Regions from separate parts of the Homo sapiens genome. Here all the other regions are reported to be linked to region 3. The links are microRNA targets in miRTarBase. Many come from high-throughput screens and were not tested one by one. Region 3 holds a microRNA gene; each other region holds the end of a gene's coding sequence.

Region 1 (4,246 bases), not on the chromosome of region 3:
AGTGAACGCCAGACACTAATAAGAGCTGGGGCTGTAGAATCAGTTCTTTCTGATGTTGCTCTTTACCAAATCATTAAACCTCTGTAAGCTTTATCTCCCTTGGCTGTACAGTGTGAGAAGTACCTCTCTCCCTCTTGCGGGGGACGGGAAGCTGAAATGCAGCTGACTTGTGGCCCTGTGCAGCTGCTAACCCATCTCTCCTGGGAATCTCAGCTTGGAGCTAGCAGACATCTAGCCCTAGGGCTCCTGGTGACAGGTCTTTCTTTCCATGAATGAGAGGAGACAGAAAGGGACGGAAGCTGAAAAAGTCTGTCTTTGAGAAACCACACAGAGGCCTTTTCAGGCTCCTTTATCTTGTGATTGCATGTGAGAGCTGTGGGCTCCACCTGTGGCAGCAGATAGGCTGACCGCACTGTGTAGGCTTGCTGCTGTGGTGTGAGGGGACAACAGCAGGCCTTCTTTCAGCGCTCTCCTCAGGGGCCAGCAGGGAGACAGCGATAGGCTTTGACAGTGAGGATCAGGTTAGAAGGCAGGAGATCCAGGTGTCCCTGGTGGATGGTGGGGTTGTCTCGGCTGAGAAACTGCCCTGTGCCTGCCACTCAAAGTTGCCAATGCTTGGTTGCCGTCTGTGCTCTTTGGCAGGGAAACCCTCAGGGAAGAGGAGGAGGAGAAAAAGCAGCTTTCTCACCCAGCCAACTTCGGCCCTCGAAAGTACTGCCTGCGGGAGTGCATCTGTGAAGTGGAAGGGCAGGTGCCCTGCCCCAGCCTGGTGCCATTACCCAAGGAGATGAGGGGGAAGTACAAAGCCGCTCTGAAAGCCGATGCCCAGGACTAAGGCCCACGGTCACTGTGGGCTGGGGTGATGGTGTCTGACCAGTGGGGAGATTGGAATGGGATTACTTTGGCCCAGGGAAGCCCCTGGTTCTGTCCCTGGAGACTCTGGAAATCCTTTTGCATTAAAAGGACTTTACACACCTGTGTAAAAGGATGTGGGAGAGGAGGGTCTGAAGCTGAGCTGCTAAATGAATATCCCTGCTCTGCTGGTCAATAAAACGCTTCCTAATAGCAGCTTGGCGTGTATCTGGTCCTAGTGAAGAGGAAGGCCTGTGTAGCAGAAAGGCTTTGGGCCTGAGAGGTTAAGGCCACAGCCTGTTGACACCTGTTTTGGTCCTGCGACCCTTTACTGGTCTCCGCTGGCTTTGAATCTTCCTCTGGGCTCTACTCTGGAGAACATAAGGGCTGCTGTGGTTGAGTCTGGCTAGCACTGTCTGTGGTTGGCAGTGTGTACACCCCTCCGTTCAGTTCCTTGGGGGTATTTTTCAGAAATCCAAAGGCAACCCTTCGTGCAGTGCTCACTTTTTTAAGTACAGTTGATTACCCTTGCCTGCTGGGGGGCCTAGCCATGGGCCAGAGATGGAGGAGCCCCAGTGGCTGACAGGCCAGCCTCACTCAGGCACGTACCTGCTGACCAGTCAGCCACTGCCAACCCATGGCCCAGCCACTGTGTGCATTAGCAGGGAGGTTTGTAGGCCATGGAGGAAATGAGGAGACACCACCTAGTGGAGACATTGGGGCCCTGCTGGGGGGATGGTGTCTATAGCTGGCTCTGCTGGCTCCCTCAGGCCCTGCTTACCAAGCTCTGGAGGAGGGAGTGCTGCATTACTGAGCACCTTCCTTGTTCTTTCCTCATAGGACACTGATGTTACTGTCACTTTAGTTATGCTAAAGTGGAGGTTTCAGCCTCCAGAAGACAGCAGAGCCTTCTAGGGTCACCTTAAGAATAGGTTTAGCTAGGCTGGGTGTGGTGGCTCATGCCTGTAATCCCAGCACTTTGGGAGGCTGATGTGGGCGGATAGTTGAGCCCAGGAGTTCGAGACCAGCCTGGGCAACATGGCAAGACCTTGTCTCTACAAAAAGTACAAAAATTAGATGGGTGTGGTGTTTCGCGTCTGTAGTCCCAGCTATTTGGGAAGCTGAGGTGGGAGGATCTCGAGCCTGCGAGATCAAGGCTGCAGTGAATCATGATCGTGCGCTACTGCACTCCAGCCTGGGCCACAGAGCAAGACTGTCTCAAGAAAAAAAATTTTTTAAATAAGTTTAATTATAAAGTGAAGGACCAGTTGGACCACGGACCCCTAGAAACTCAGCCAAGGAGACCTGACTTTATCTGAGACAGGAAGGCAGTGGTTAAAAGAATTAAAAAAGGACAGTGGTGCTTGACAGAGCAGGACTGAAGTTTTCATTCCTCTACCTGCTGGGGCCTTGGTCAAGTCCTAAAAGCTTTCCAGGTCTGTAACTGGTTTTGTCTGTAAAATGGGGAAAAGGTTACCTTTTCTGCCACATGAAGTAGCTGGCTGGTGAAATGATGTCATACTACGATGTGTTTCATTAACTGTTGGAGATTATCACATTAAATTGAGCAGATTTGGATCTTTTACATTTGATGCTCAAGTTTGATTCTGTACCAGATCTGGGTTTGGGGTGATGGCTTGTCGGGGGTGGGAGGGGAAGGTGGGCAGAGACTGATGTATAATGGACAGGTGTTCCTTGAGTGACAGACTTACAAAGGGAGTGTTTAATTGAAATCTAGCATCTTGTCTCTCTGCTATCAGCATTTTGGCTGGGTGGAAAAAGCTCTCCTCCACAGAGAGCCCTCCCATGTCTGCTGGTTTCAGTTCCCCACCCAACTGACTGAAGTCTTGACCTTGATACCACCTGCCTGGGCGTTCTACTTGGCTGCAAGGGCTCTTCAGAAAGCACCTAGTTCCTTTTGGCTTTCATCTGCAGTGTAGGTCTCCATAGCTAGTGACACACAAAGCCTTATGAGAGTATTCCTTCCCTCTAGGGCCCAAAGAGGCTGCTAACCAGCAGGAATGTCCTGAACCAAAAGGAGTGGTGACCATTCTCTAGACAGAATAAATGTCTGGTCCCTAATGGGACAGATAACTAGGGTTTGAGTTCAGGCTTGACACAGGAGCAATGGGCAGTGAGGTGGACAGCCCAGACCCTGAAAGGACGTGTGGAGACAGCAGCAGTCCTGTGGTGCAGTTACTGCCTGTGTGGCCAGCTTCACAGGCAGCAGATAATTTGTGGAAATAAACATTATTTTCTTTTTTTGTTCCCTGTAGGCTACTTGATCCTGGATAGTTTCTCTTTAAACCTTTGTCTTTCCCTATTTTGTTTAGTAGTGATGAAAGATGGGTTTAAAATATACAGAAATGGGAGAAAATTAATTAGAGAAAATGTGAGGATTTTATAATTGATAACATGTTCTTAATTTTACTTGCACAAGCAGTGTTCACAGCCTTATTCTGAAGTGACCACTTTTCTTCTCTTTGAGGCACTACCTGGCAGCACCATCTAAACCTGTATCATCTGCTGTGGTCCCAGTTACTCAGGAGGCTGAGGCAGGAGGATCACTTGAGCCCAGGAGGTTGAGGCTGGAGTGAGCCATGACTGTACCACTGCATTCCAGCCTGGGTGACGGAGTGAGGCCCTATCTGCCTGCCAGTGAGTTCTGTCATGCATCAGACTTTGGACCTCAGAATTTTCACCTGGAACATGAGAGGTCAGATGACATAATGAATATGTTCTAACTTCTGAAACTTTTGGAGCTTGTTTTTGCCCTTGATAGCACGTATCCTTAGAGAATAAGCTTGCCAATTTAAGGCCTGTCTGTAATGGCATCTGAATGTTCCAGCAGCCTAACTGTGCTCTGCTCCAGAAACATGTGTGTGGCTTCCCTACCTCCACACCAAGGAGCTGCCTTGCTGGGTGGATGTAAAGACTGTCCTGCCAGGGTTTCCCACTAAAGGTATTAATAAGTCCAGTGGACCACAGAGGGCCCAATCCCTCTTGGCCGCTAAGGCTAAGGTAGGAGCCAGAGAGCTGTAGAGACAGGACCACCAGGATGCTTCATGTCCATAACACAAGAGAGCGCTGCATTGTTTGGGGGCCAGGCATTACTACTATCATGAAGAAAAATGAAGAGCAGGATGCATGTTAGTCTTTAATTCACTTTTAATAGTATAAACCTCATTTAGGTAGTAGTATTAAGCCACAACAATAATGCCACATTGAAACAGCATTTAATAAAATGCATAAAGCTAATTCATGCACTGCAATACTCTATATACAAACACAACAATGCAAATTCTTCTTCAAGACTGAAGACATTGATTAGATATAAAATTCAGTTTAAAAAGAACATGCTATTTTTTAAATGCCATCACATAAACAAAGTGAT
Region 2 (4,246 bases), not on the chromosome of region 3:
TTTTGCCAGGTGGTGTGGGGATGATGTGCTCATTGAGTGAACAAGGGAAGCAGCTAGCTATCCAGGTGTCTAATATCCTGGGGATGGATGTGTGTGGCATTGATCTGCTGATGAAAGATGACGGCTCCTTCTGCGTCTGTGAGGCCAATGCAAATGTAGGTTTCATCGCCTTTGATAAGGCTTGTAATCTAGATGTAGCTGGTATCATAGCAGACTATGCCGCCTCCCTTCTACCCTCTGGCCGGCTCACCCGGCGTATGTCCCTGCTCTCCGTGGTGTCCACTGCCAGTGAGACTAGTGAGCCGGAGCTGGGTCCCCCAGCCAGCACTGCTGTTGACAACATGAGTGCAAGTTCCAGCTCTGTTGACAGCGACCCTGAAAGCACGGAGCGAGAGCTGCTCACCAAGCTCCCAGGGGGCCTGTTCAACATGAACCAGCTGCTAGCCAATGAAATCAAACTACTGGTGGACTGACTCCACTGGTAATTAACCAACAAAACCCTTGTAAAACTTTCTTTCTTCTTTTCTATTTTTAAAACCAACTTGCAATGCTGTTCATGGAGGATGCTCAGGAAGATGAGAGAAAATTAGTAGGATTAGTTGGAGAGAGTGGGAGATAGATGAGACCTCTGCTAGTAAGATGTTACTTTCATTTACAAATCCTACAAATAGAGAGGCAGAATAGGTGGGGTATAGAAAAATGTCAGGCTCTCATAGTTACCCTTTTAAATTGCTAAAAAATGTGTATGCTCATAGGCCATGAGGAACAAATACTTTTTTTTTTTCATGGTCCCTTGCTTTTGTTTTTGTACAAAAAAAAATGGTTTTGCTACAAATATCCAAGTAGCATAACTTCACATTGTGTTGGAAGATTTGTCATCAGTGAGGAAAACATCTGCATAAATTACAGGAATTTTTGTATTATACAGCTCTGAAAATTCTGCCATTTCCTTATTAACTAGCAGCTTTAGTTTGTAGTTTATGAAATCTTGAGGGGCTCTTTTACTGGGATTTCTTATTTTTTTGTTTTTTCCCGCTTAATTTGGTGGGAGGTCAAATTGAATATAACCCAATAAAGGCTTCTTAATGACAAAATTGGCATGTTTGCATGATGAAATGGAAATGAACAGTATTGCAATGTCCGGTATACAAAATAACATTAATTCAATGTAGATAAAATTACACTAGTTTAAAATATGTGCATTCACTTGTATTTGTTAGTGTTTTAGTCTTTTTTGAAAGATGTGCTCTGTTAATGTTGCTTTTTTTTTTTTTTTTAATACATGCTAGTCTAACATTTCCTGCTCTATGCCTGCATCTTTAACAATGGCCAAAGTGAAGAAAATGCTACCTTTTTTGTTAACAAGACACTGACTTGAAACATGTACATTTAAAGCCTTTTATTTTTTCCCTTTTTGTTTTGGTAGTTGGGCATTTAAATAAGGACAAGGAAAAATATTTTTGGGGGCAAATCAAGAGCCTATGAGTTCTAAGTATAAAGCTGAAGTGATTTCGAATGCCAGCGTTATATATTTGCATTTTTCACATTTTACGAGGGAGTATATGTGTATGTGTGTGCACGCATGCATGTGTATGTGTTTTGCTTTTTGTTTCCATCAACTAATCAAAAAGGATAATTTAGAAAATGGAGCATGATGGGAAACAGAGTTTTTGACTTTAAAAAACAGATGAGTTGTTTTCATAAGTAGACTCCACTGGGGTAGAGGTATTCACCTTAAAACATAGGGTGAGTAGATGCTTTTTTAGGCCTTTTTGTGTATATGTACGTTGTTTGTTTTTTTCCTTTTGTTTCTAGCCTGTTCAGTGTACAGTTTATTCAAGGCTACATGCTTTTCTTTAATGCTTCTGGCTATGCATTTTCTCTTTTTACATATAGGATTTGGGATTGGGGGTGGGTTGGATGTTTTTGTTTGGGGACTTATTTAGTAGTATTGAGTCTCTTATAGCCCTACTCTTAAGCCTTCAATACTGTCCACTCTTTATATTCCTTTACTTGCAGAATTTATAAAAGCCCCCAAACTGCATATAATATGAGCCTTTAAAACATGGGTAAAACTAATCCCATTGATGGGTTTGGATGGTATGTTAAGAAATGGAGATGCTGCAGAGCCCAACGTAATTTTTTAAACAGCAAGTTTTCCATCTCCCTACGAATCCTCTGAAGCTTTTACCCAAGCCCTTTCTTGCCTCTCCAGTGCTATTTTCCTTCAGATGGACCTTAAACATAATTTCTTGGACACTACTAGAGAGACTTCGAGGCAATAATAAAAGATCAGTATTAACCAGCTATAACAGAGGTTTGATCATGCTTACTTGTACAGTTTTTCCCCCGTTTTAAAAAGGAATGTAATAAAATTTGTTTTTTCCATAGAATTAAATAATATTAAAATTGAGTGAAAGGTTGATTGTTGATGAATAGAATAGTACCTCTCATCTGTGCAGTGTCTCATTTCACCTCAGAGAAAAGGATACATAAGAGGAGTTTGTAATTTATCTTAGGATATTCTAATTGCATTTAAAAGAACTTATCTTGCGCAGGGTAAATGGGGGACTCACATACATATATTAATACCTCTGACTCATTAACAGAAAGAAATACTTGGTACTTCTTTCGCTGAATGACCATACTGTGGAGGATGCATACTATTTGGTATAGAGAAATAAATGAGGAAGAAAGAACTGCTTAATTAAATTATCATTCATATGTTCATATAGAGACCATCTGGTTGCCATGTGTATTATGACACATACACTTTGAATAGTTACATATCACAAGTATGTAGTTCATGTTTGTGTTGGTGGGGTAAGGCATCAGGAAAAATGTAGTTAGTCTTTTCTTAACTTATACCAAATTAACCAACTATATTATAGGAAATATGTGAAATTAGTTCATTAGCTTTATTCACTATTATGCATTCACATGATATTAAAACGTACACTCACATGTTAGAATGAAAAGAGCAGTAGTTATCTTAGATTTTAAAAACATGGATATCTTCTTGAATTCCTTCAAGATTGAGGTAGAGAATAAGAGCAAATCATTCTGGAAGTACCTTAAGGAAACAAACAGCAGCAGATATTTAGGTTAAACTTATTTTCATAATTGTTTAATAACTTTTGTATAATCTTCATTGCTATTATGAGAGAGAATGTATATATCAAATATGTGTAATGATAAAATCTGAATTGTAAAATTTTTGTATATTGTTAAAATTGTAATTCTAAATTGTATTTCAAAAATGATTATTTCTGATATTGTTTTTATGTCACCCATGATGAAAACTGGACTTTATATATCTAAACATACAAGTATGAACTATTCTATTTAAAATTTTTAATAGTTTTTTTCTTTTTTGGTGCCTATAATTGATTGGTCATTTCTGCTGGCTTTTCTCCAATGAACATTGAAATCTTCCTGTATATGTTACCAATAAGAAAACTACCCTGGAACAGTAGAAAAACCCAACAAGAGACTTGGCATTCATCAAGCACATTATCAGACTTTGAGAACATATTGAAGGCATTGACTTTGAAAATCATCTCTTTTTCTCAAGAAGAAAGCAATGGAGAAGCAAATTTGTTTCATTCAGTGAATCCCCAGTTTGGGGCTTGTGGGGCTTAGAGACATTGTGAAATCAAATCTTGTGTTATACTTTTCTCCTGGCTCACTTTTTTTGAGAAGGTTTATGGGCTATTTGGCTGGTGAGACACGATCCCCTCCTAAGAAAATGTAGGTGCTCAGACAGGTAACCACTGCTGCTACTGTTTTTATTTGTTTGTTTGTTCAATTTTATTTAAGATTTGTTTTTGTTGTACTAGGATTTTAAAAAATGTAATATATTGCAGGATTTATAACCAGGTTCACTGACTGCTTGCTTGCTTTCTTTTTTTTTTTTTTTTTTTTTTTTTCTTCTTAAAAAAACAAAACAAAGTTTCATTTAAAATACATTTAGGCACCTTTGGAGCTTGGATTTTGGAATGTTTCAGTAGTGGACAGAAATCTGCTGTTGGAATCTTCTAGTCTTCCAGGTTTAATTTGAAATGTTTTTAGTTTTGTTTTGGATTTTTGTGTGGTATTTTATTTCCTTTATACCAATGCCATTTTGCCATGCTGTTTTGGGGTGGCTGCCTAACTCTAGTGAAAATTCTTTCTATATTAATGAAAGTTTGGCCTTTGAAGATCCTTAATGTTTTGCATTTTTTACATTGTTTTTAAAGAAATATTC
Region 3 (4,246 bases):
TATGGTTATTTTTGACACGTTATAGTTTGAAGTTCAATGTAGTCAAAGTCATGCTTGTCTTTTCTTTTTGCCTCGTTTGTGTTAAAATTGAAAATGTTCTTCATCATTTCAAGGATATTAAATTTTCAACTACGTTTATTTTAGAAAATTTTCAGAAATTACATTTAATTCATTAATATACTGAAATTAAGCTTGAGAACTTGTACGAAGTTCCAGATATTATCTTTTTCTCATTTAGCTAATATTCACAATGCTTTTCCCGCCAGAACGATCCATCTATTAAACATTTTATTCCAAGTGGATTAAACGGTTTCACAATATGATTACATTTTTAAAATCACTTTTTAAAATACTGTGAAGAAAATATTGAACAGATGGATGGCTGATGGTGGGAGTTAGGAGACCATTGGAATAGTCCAAGTAAGAGGTGTGCGTTTCTGGACTAAAGTTCAGTAGAAGTATACAGAATAATTGAAATATTAGCAAGATAAAAAGTGAACATCTTCAGGACTGTGCGATTGTATGTTTAGAAAAGGAGAGGAAGCAAGGTCCAGGAACATGAAATGAATTGAGATTTATGGCTTTGGTTTCCAAGTAGATCAAGAGTGTTATCCCTTGGGAAAAAGATGATACGTTATCTGTAGTCATGGATGGGCTTTGGTCTGTGAGAAGAGCAGAAGACAGATATGTAGCTTTGGGATGTGTAAGCTGGAGATAAAGACTTGGGTATCTGCAGCATCTGAGCAGATGTAAACATCATTCACGTGCCTGAGATTCCTTCAAAGATTGTGAGACAAGAGAAGAGAAAAAAAGCCATAAAGTTAAGAATGGGTCTCAGAAGGATACTGGCATTGGGAGTTCAAGCAGATGAAGAGCTTCTTAAAAATAAATAAATAAATAGGACATCACTGTAATAAAGAGAGAAATCCAAATGAGAGTAGGATCACAAAAGTGAATGGGGACTGGAGTTTAGGAAGAAGTGGTCAGCTGTGTCAGGCATCAAGGGGAGTTCGAGTAGGACAACTGGCAGAAAAGTTTGATTTGTATTTGGCAATATGGAGCTCACTGGTGATTTGGGGAAAAGCAGTGTCATTAGAATGATGTTATGCACAAGTGGGAGAGAGAAATGGTAGAAGATGCCAAATTACATATAGTTGAGGTGAAATGGGAAGTAAACAAATATAGACAGTGCTGCAGGCTACTATGTACTATTTCTAAAATCTTAGCTTTTAAAAAGAAGAAAAGAAGTGGGGTAAGTAACTTGAGGATAAAGCAAGTATAGAGAAGTTTTTCTCAAATTTCTTTTGTTTTCTATTTGAGAAGAGAGAAAACTGAACCTTGTTACATGTGAAATGGAGCCAGATGGTGAGAGAGGAGGGGGATATCACAGGGGAAGAGATGTCCCAAGCAAGGCAGGAGGCTCACGTGAGACAACTCAGGGCAGAATCCTACGCATTCATAGGCTATAAACAAGGAAGTGGAGGGAATAATCACATGGACTCAAGCTTCTCAATGAAAAACAGAAGTCAGTTCATCTGTTGAGAGTGGAATCGTGGAAAGGAGCAGTTGAGGAAAGAGGTAAACATTTAGGCTAAACATGAGGGAGTGGAGTAGAAGAAATGCTGGGTCAGAGTTGAGGGACTGAGGCACTTGGAGGCCCCTGAGTATGTGTATTAATGTGTCCATATGATGATGTGATTTTATTTTTCAGCAACACTGATATTGAAAGGACAGTTGCCTTGGAGATAAGAGAATGAGAAACTAGAATGGTAAGAAGTGATAGACAGAGTGGGATATTAGATATCGAATGTGGTAAAATATTTTAAGGTTATGATGAGGTCAAGAGCCGGGTCCCAGCAATGGGTTTCTGTAATGGGAGTTAAAGGCAAATGGGATTTAAAAGATCAAGGAAAAGAAAGGATAATTTATTTGACCATTAAAAAAAAATGAACATTGAAGCCATCCAGGTACTCCAAACATAGACACTTGAGAAAGCATTTTATTTTGCTATATAATTATTATCATTACAAATGGTAAACTTAAAACTGCTGTGATCAAATTTAATGACAGATGTCCTATATAAAAATGCAGAGGCAAACCACTTAAGAAAAACCATGATATGCATAGGCTTTTACTTGCAAAGTCAGATGAGTAAACATGAGGCAATTAATGGGCCATGACTGTAAGTCTAACCACGCAGTTCATGCACATAGAAAGTGGGTAAAGTTTTAAAGTGGAAATTGAATTGGGAAAATCAATCTACTATATGACTGTCATGAGTGTTCTGATAGTTATATAGTTATGTATATATTATTTTCTTCGTATTTAGCATGTTACATAGCAAGAGGCAGAATTATATGAGCAAATCCTCACCCAGAGAAGCAGAAAGCTAAAATTATCTGGTGTTTCTATCCCACTTTGACCAGAACATCTAACAAAAGTTGTAAAGAACACATATTTGTAAGTGTGTTATTGTCAATGGCATGGGTGCTGAGGTCCTACTTTATGTCTTTTTTTCACTCACACTACAACAGTAGGAAGGTGAGCTAACCTAGATGATGATACTGTACGTTTGATGGACAAAATAGTTTTGCCTTTTCTAAAACATGCTCTGTTTATAGCATACAAAAGATAGAGAAGCATTATTCTTGTTTAAACCAGAGTCTTTTTCATTGAAATCTCATCACATGATATAAATTGAATAAATAAACCAGAAGATGCTGACGAATTGGAAAACTTAAAGAACAATAGTACTATTTTGAACACATCTTTCAAAGATGGAATATCTGTTGATTGTGACAGCAAAAAGCGGGGCCACAGTTGCATTCATTGTTCAGTGAGCTTGTCCACACAGTTCAACCCACCGACAGCAATGAATGTTGATTGTGACCTTTTAAAAAATAATCTCTGCACAGGGAAGAGAAAGTCCTGGTGTGTCCACCTTTGGTTTCCTGTCTTCAGCGAATTCTGAGCACCATGGAGTAGATGATGGTTAGCCATAGGGTACAATCAACGGTCGATGGTTTTGATTTTAATTCCAAACTCACCGACAGCGTTGAATGTTCACTGAAGCAACCTCAAAACTCAGAATTCTACTCACTTTACAGTATCTGTAAGTATCTGAAGGGGATGGGAGACAGAAACAACAGTACCTTTAGTCATATATTTTATGCATTTTTATGCCATTTCAAAAGACTACAAAAGAAGACAAATAAGAAGCATGATTCTTCCAACAAAGAGTTTGGCAAACCTCCACATCACATTGTATGAGAGAAAAGGATCGGTTTCATTAAGCAAAAACATGGCCGATATTGGGCTAGTTCCAGAGATGGAATTATCTCACTGTTAAAGACAGGGACAATTTGTTATTCAAAGTACTTTGTGGTATAAAATCCAAACAATATCTTATAATTTAAATATTGTTACGCTTATAGTAAGCAAGCATTATGTATATAGCTTATACAGAAATTAAACAGAATTACCTTAGATTTCCTCAAATTGGCATTGATGATATCATTTATATTTACATTATATATTTACTATATTTTATTCTAAAATAAGGTTTTAAAATTAGTATAACTTCCTAAGAACAATCTTATTTAGAAAATGCTGAACAAATTATAAGTGAAGAAACCAGCTCAATACATTTTTCTTAGTTTATGGCACAAAGAGTTCATGAATACAGTGAAAGGTAAATACAATCTATGTATGCTACAAAACCGTTCATTTCCTATTATTTTAAATAACATCTAACATCTAACATCTCTTTATGGGTAGATGGGTGAGGGATTCTTTTCATAGTCTTATTTTCTAAGACTGTTTTATCATTAATGCTTATTTTAAAATTATTATGAACTCTACTGAATTTATTTTTAGAGCCATTTTCAATAATTTTCTACCATCAATTAAAACAAAAGTCACCTTGGATGTATCTAAACCAGAATAGAAAGTCATTATTTCACACATTTAAGTTGCATCTAATATGGTTATAGAGTAATTATCTGTAGGAGGGACAACCCACAATAATTTGGAATGCTACTTTGAAGGTGATAATGGTCTATTCAAGTCAAGGCAATTACTCTCGAAATGTTAGTGAAATATGTATCCCAAATTTTTACACATTCTTACATTTCAGTCACTTAGAATTATTTTAAAGCCAATAATTGTTTAACCTTTTAGACAAACTATTTACATGAAAACTTCAACAGATTTTTTTTGAGAGAAACAGGGACTAGAGATCAACTGG

What was found. The annotated mature microRNA hsa-miR-181b-3p reads CUCACUGAACAAUGAAUGCAA and lies in region 3 at 2,821-2,841, opposite strand. An mRNA with a match to its seed (bases 2 to 7 or 8) in the 3' UTR can be bound and repressed. Matches are read on the target gene's strand: a 7mer-m8 pairs with bases 2 to 8, a 7mer-A1 pairs with bases 2 to 7 and ends in A, and an 8mer does both.
Region 1: miRTarBase lists MRPS25 as a target of hsa-miR-181b-3p. Seed matches in the 3' UTR shown: 7mer-A1 at 2,013-2,019.
Region 2: the mRNA of RIMKLB is a reported target of hsa-miR-181b-3p. Seed matches in the 3' UTR shown: 7mer-m8 at 879-885 and 8mer at 3,607-3,614.

What each region holds. Positions count from the first base shown.
Region 1 is chr3:15,049,030-15,053,275 of GRCh38, reverse strand. It overlaps MRPS25 (mitochondrial ribosomal protein S25), which reads left to right. Exons shown (of 4, transcript NM_022497.5): 4 at 643-4,246. The coding sequence ends at 835. NR2C2 (nuclear receptor subfamily 2 group C member 2) reads right to left here. Exons shown (of 14, transcript NM_001291694.2): 14 at 4,003-4,246. Among named protein-coding and RNA genes, the nearest start is that of MRPS25, 14 kb to the left of the region's middle. RefSeq lists an enhancer at 2,764-2,843.
Region 2 is chr12:8,773,312-8,777,557 of GRCh38, forward strand. RIMKLB (ribosomal modification protein rimK like family member B) reads left to right here. Exons shown (of 6, transcript NM_001297776.2): 6 at 10-3,880. The coding sequence ends at 473. It overlaps A2ML1-AS1 (A2ML1 antisense RNA 1), which reads right to left. Exons shown (of 2, transcript NR_046715.1): 2 at 2,900-3,073. Among named protein-coding and RNA genes, the nearest start is that of LINC02972, 13 kb to the right of the region's middle.
Region 3 is chr1:198,856,067-198,860,312 of GRCh38, forward strand. It overlaps MIR181B1 (microRNA 181b-1), which reads right to left and starts at 2,916; the gene lies at 2,807-2,916. The region is part of intron 2 of MIR181A1HG (MIR181A1 host gene); the gene reads right to left. It overlaps MIR181A1 (microRNA 181a-1), which reads right to left and starts at 3,087; the gene lies at 2,978-3,087.